Regions from separate parts of the Homo sapiens genome. Here region 2 is linked to region 1. Evidence: fine-mapped expression QTL. Tissue or cell type: skeletal muscle. Region 1 holds a variant in brackets; the other region holds the start of a gene. All regions are shown on one strand. Distances are between the middles of the regions.

What was found. PIP is the estimated chance that this variant, and not a neighbour inherited with it, causes the effect.
Region 2: it holds the start of TFCP2L1, and the variant in region 1 is fine-mapped to the expression of TFCP2L1 in skeletal muscle (GTEx, PIP 0.98).

What each region holds. Positions count from the first base shown.
Region 1 is chr2:121,184,561-121,187,403 of GRCh38, forward strand. No RefSeq gene overlaps it. Among named protein-coding and RNA genes, the nearest start is that of TFCP2L1, 99 kb to the right of the region's middle. The variant C/T (reference allele first, on the strand shown) is at 1,221.
Region 2 is chr2:121,283,959-121,286,458 of GRCh38, forward strand. It overlaps TFCP2L1 (transcription factor CP2 like 1), which reads right to left and starts at 1,244. Exons shown (of 15, transcript NM_014553.3): 1 at 1,090-1,244. The coding sequence starts at 1,151. RefSeq lists a silencer at 1,270-1,409.

The DNA of each region.
Region 1 (2,843 bases):
ATTGACAGGAAGGTGGGAGAACGGGCTTAGGAAGTGGGCAGCCACCAAGGGAGGCCCAGGGGCAAAAGCTTGGCCATGGTCCCACCTGGAGGCCTGTGGGGAAGGCCCACCAGAAGCTCATGCTCCCGCCGTAGAGGGACACCAGGGCCACTGCTGCCACCTGTGGACACTGCTGCCACCTGTGGACACTGCCACAGGAAATGGCATCTCATTTTCCCTCCACTTAATGTCACCCACCTAAGTCTGAGTCCTGGATGGAAGTGTCCTTTTAGCCACATCTGGGTCCATTTGCCCAGGAACAAGGTGAGAGAATGCCTGCCCCTTCAGCTTCCACAGTGGGTGGCTTATCTCCTGCCAATACTCACATCATAGGGCCTTATTCTCAAATAAGAAGGGGGCAAACATACTGGGTAGCCCCCTCTCCATCCAATAGCAAATGTCCCCTGCCATGATTAAGAGCTAAAAAGAATGGAATAGGTGACATGGGATCTAGAAGCTTGGAGGAGGGGCCACAAGGAGGACTTGAAGAATTTAAGAGAGGTCCATGGAAGAGGTGGGTGTGCTGACTTTGGCCTTTAAGCACAGAGAGGATGTGGCCCCGGCTCTGTCCACGATGCTTGGCCTGACCTGGTCAGGCACTGTGCAAGGGGTCCTCTGAGCTCATTCAGTGCCTGGACCATGGCAGCCACATTATAATTCTCACGGCCATGGCACCGTGCTAAGACCCAGGCATGCAGCTGCAACTTTCCCAACAGTCCTGCAGGCTAACTTCTCTGACCCATAGCTGAGAGAGGTGATAGGCCTTGATGGAAAAGGCCAGCGCGTGAGCCCAGGCCTGTCCGACTGGGAAGCCCACGCTCCTTGCCCTAAGCTGGATGCCTCCCGTTGCAATTAGATAAGGAGCCGTAACACTGTGTGTTTTACTCCTGCTGGCTGCTTTTCCCAGGAATCTTTGTAACCTTCAGGCCAACCCTATGAGATAGCGAGAGCTGCAGATGTTCACCCCTCTTGAGTAGTCGAGGAACCCAAGGCCAAGGTCACCCAGCTTTCAGGGACTGGAGTCCACATAGGCCTGGTGCCTGCTCTTCGCCCGGATCCAGCCAGGCAGCTGTCTTCAACTCATGACCCTGCAGCGGGAGGTTGTGGGGTGGAGCAATTTGAGGAACAGATCCCATTAAGCTGTGTCCATCCACATGATGTAAACCCACACCTAGCCATCC[C/T]TTGGAACACAGTGGCCAAAAGTGCAGAGGGAACATTTGTCTAGGAGAACAATGGGTATTGATTCCTCTGGCAGCTGCAGCTGGCAGGCTCTGTAGGTGGTTTGGTCTGGGGTTTGGGGTGGTGTTTATTTGGATGCCGTAGCCTGGTTACTCATCATTCTTGCTCTCCCTGGGCCCCTGGGCTGTCTGAGGACTCAGTGGGAACAGTTCAACAGCCCAGGGCATGTGCTGTGTCACTGTCCCCTGCTCTTCCTGAGAGTGACTGGCACTATGTCCTGGCTTGGGCTGGGCTATCCTGGGATGGGGGCCTGGACACTCTGGGCTTGGACTGGCAGCCCTGCAGCCAACCTTCTTTATATGGGGCACACATGCTCCTGAGAACTTGCTAGACAGGACCGTGTCCGTGCTCCATTTCCTGGCCACCTGCACATCAGTCCAAATACTGTTTCTCCAACACACACACACACACATAGGCAGACAGGCCGCTGCCTACCTCTCACCACCACAGTCACTTCAGTGGCCTGGGAGGAAGGTGACCTCGAGCAGGTCCTGGTTCAGACACCAGTGCATGGCCTGTCAGAGCCTCTCAGGCCTCAGTGCCCCCAGCTGCAAGATGCGGCTCCACAGCAAGCCCTCTGTGCCTCACCTGCATCCTGCTCCAGGCGCCTCTGTCTGCAGACAGCTCTGTGCGCGTGCCCGTGGAGCACGCCCTGCCTGGGCACCACACATCACCACCAGAGAGGCAGGAGGCAGGAGCACCGGGACAAAGTCTCCTCCCACCTCCCCCAGGATGAGTTTGTGCAGCTTCTGGGAACTGGGGCCCAGGGCTCTCCACCAGTGCTATCTGCCATCAGTCCTCCTTTCTCCAGCTTCACTCTCCTGTCCATCGCTCCATCCCCCGGGGTCACACGCCCTTAAGTTTCCATACAGAAGCCAAAAGCCTCAGGCTCCCTGAATTTTGGGTGAGCCCAGGTAAAGACAATGGATGTGAGAACTTCTCAGGCCTCTATTCTGTGACATATGAAGGTATGAAGGGCATTTATTTATTTATTTATTTATTTATTTATTTATTTATTTAGAGATAGAGTCTCTGTCACCCAGCCTGGTGTGCAGTGGCGTGATCTCAGCTCACTGCAACCTCTGCCTCCTGGGTTCAAGCAATTCTCCTGCCTCAGCCTCCCAAGTAGCTAGGACTATGGGTGTGTGCCACCACACCAGACTAATTTTTGTATTTTTAGTAGAGAAGGGTTTTCACCATGTTGGCCAGGCTGGTCTCAAGCTCCTGGTCTCAAGTGATCTGTCTGCCTCGGCCTCCCAAGGTGCTGGAACTACAGGGGTGAGCCACTGTGCCTGGCAATACGAAGGACATTCTTAAAAAAAAAAAAATTGAAGTCCTGGGCCATTTTCATCTCACACCCAGCTGGCATCTCTGCCTCCTTTACTCCTTGGATAACTAACCCTTAATTCCGTCCTCTGTAAAATGAGGCTGACCCCTTGAGGAACTTCTCCAAGGATTGAATGGAGTAAGTCCATAATGTGCTCTGCACAAGGCCTGGTACCCAGAAGGTGCTCAATAATTTTAACAACCAGCACAGAGGCCTGAATGGGGTGCGGGGGGCAGTG
Region 2 (2,500 bases), 99 kb after region 1:
CCATGAATAAAAACAGCAGATACATCCACTAAACCCAATCATTCCCCCGCCTCCAGGAAAAGGGGATGTCTTCAGGGAGGACAAATACCTACCAGCAGCCAGGAATTACAAATAACGTTTTAAGATCTAAGTGGGAACTTCTTGGGGCCAAAACTAGCACTTAAAGGTAGCTCTAGTATGGGGGCTGTCAATGCCTGTGACTCCTTCGGCCTCATCATTCATTTTCCTTGAGCCCATATCAAATGCCCTTTGGGTTAAATTAGGCACATTTCATAAACTGTGACTAAGATGGAAATAAGGACAGGCTAAAGCTGGTTCAGGCGAGTTCACAAAGTGAAATGACTGCCCATTAGTCCCGGCCAGCAGCAGAACAGGGAAAAACAATCCTCCGGGAGCGAGAGCACACGGGGTCCTACTGCTAAGAGGGGCCTGTGGGGAACTGTGCAAAACACGCAGGACTTACTTTCCCCTCTGAAGGGCACTACTCAAATCCCTCCAGCAGAAGAAAGATTTCCATCAAGGGCAATAACCACGCGGGCCTCGGGCGAACACGCGCAAGACCATCGCGGGAAGTGGGGCGGCCTGCCCCTCCGAGCCCGCCGCCCGCCCCTCGTCCAAGGAAGGGCACTGCAGAGGGCGCGAGGCTGGGAGAGGGGCCCCGGCGGAGACGGGCAAAGAGCAGGGGACGAACTTCCCCGGGCCGGGCACCAGGCTGCTGGCAGGAAGTTTCCTCTGCTTCTCCGATACGCGGGGGAGAGGAGGGCCGCAGGGGGCGGACGGGCCAGGGGAGGCGGCGGGCCGGCAGGTGCGCGCCCTGCACCCTCTCTGCCGCCTGGGAGGAGCCCTCGCAGACATAGGGCTCTGCGCGCTCGCCTCCCCAGCGGGCCCCCAACTCCGCACGTCGGGTCCCGCCGGCGTCCATCTGTCAGTCCCTAGGCGGGACGCTGGGCGGGTCTCTCAGTCCCCAGAGGGCGGACAGCGGGGAGGCCAGGGCCCAGCAGGGGCGCCCCCTCTCCGCCCCTGGACGTCCAACGGCGCCCGGCCCGCCGGCCCGGCCCGAGACCCGCGGGGACCGCGCGCGGCCCTTACCGCAGGTAGCTGCCGGAGTTGTGCTGGTTGTAGTGCTCGGGCTGCGTGTGCCAGAAGAGCATGGCTGGAACTCCCAGCGCGCCGACCGGGGCGCGGCAGCAAGCGCAGACGCGGGGCGCGCCGAGGACCCAGCGGCGGCTTCGCGCTCCGAACCCGCGGTGCCGGCCGGCTCGGCGCATTTATCGGCGGCCCAGGGGCGGGACAGCGGTGAGACCCGCCCCCCAGGAAGCGCGGCCCGGAGGGCGGCTCCCCGCGGCAGCCGCACCTGGCTGACTCCCGCGCGTGCCTTTCCGGCGAGCGAGCGCGCCTCCGGGGCGGCCAGACCAGAGGGCTCTAGGGCCGGCCGGGTGCTCTCCCCAAACTCCGATGTGGGGCTCAGGTGACCCTTGCCGCCCCCAACCCGCTCCACACGGCCCCTCTGGCCTCTGCTCCCCACTCTACGCCCAGGGCCGGTCTCCAGAGCGGCTCCGAGATTTCCAGCCTAGGCCCTCTCTGTCGCCTTTCCTCGCTCTTGTTTTTTCATAGCACTTCAGACGCTCTGAAATCATGGGGGTTTTTTTGTTGGTTTTTTTTTTTTTGAGACGGGGTCTCGCTCTGCCACCCAGGCTGGAGTGCAGTGGCGCGATCTCGGGGCTCACTGCAACCTCTCCTCCCAGGTTCAAGCAATTCTCCTACCTCAGCCTCCTGAGTAGCTGGGATTACAAGCGCCCCCCATCACGCCTGACTGATTTTTTTATTGTTAGTAGAGACGGGGTTTCGCCATGTTGGCCAGGCTGGTCTCGAACTCCTGACCTCAGGTGATCCGCCCACCTTGGCCTCCCAAAGTGCTGGCATTACAGGCGTGAGCCCCCGAGTCAGGCCGACATTTTTTTATTTTTTATTTTTACTTGTGTACTGATTGTCTTTCCCATTAGACTGTAAGCTCCAAGAGGACAGGGCCTGGCTCGCTTAACACCCCGTTACCTGCACTGCCTAGAACAGTGCATGGGACATAGTTAAGATAAATGTTTGTTGAGTAAACATAAAAAAAGAAAAAAGGAATGCACCAAAAGAGTAATCAGAGAAGCCTTCCTGGAGGAGGTGACATTGAGCTGAGACCTGATGGATGCAAAGGAAGCATCTCTGTGAACATCACCTAGGGAAAAATAGTTCCAGGCATAGTTCCCTACCCCCTTGGCAACAGTGACTGCCAAAGCCTTGAGGAAGACCTACTTGGCATGGCTGGTCTTGAGGAGAGCTTAGGAGATGAGGTGAGGAGGGCGGGGAAGATCAGAGGGCCTGGCAGGCCAGGACAAGGAGCTAGGATTTTATTCTGTGTTTTAAGCAGAGGAGTCACATGTATGATTTGCCTTTTGGAAAGATCAGTCTGGCAGCAGTGTAGACAGTGGGTCATGGGGTGGAGGGGAGGGCC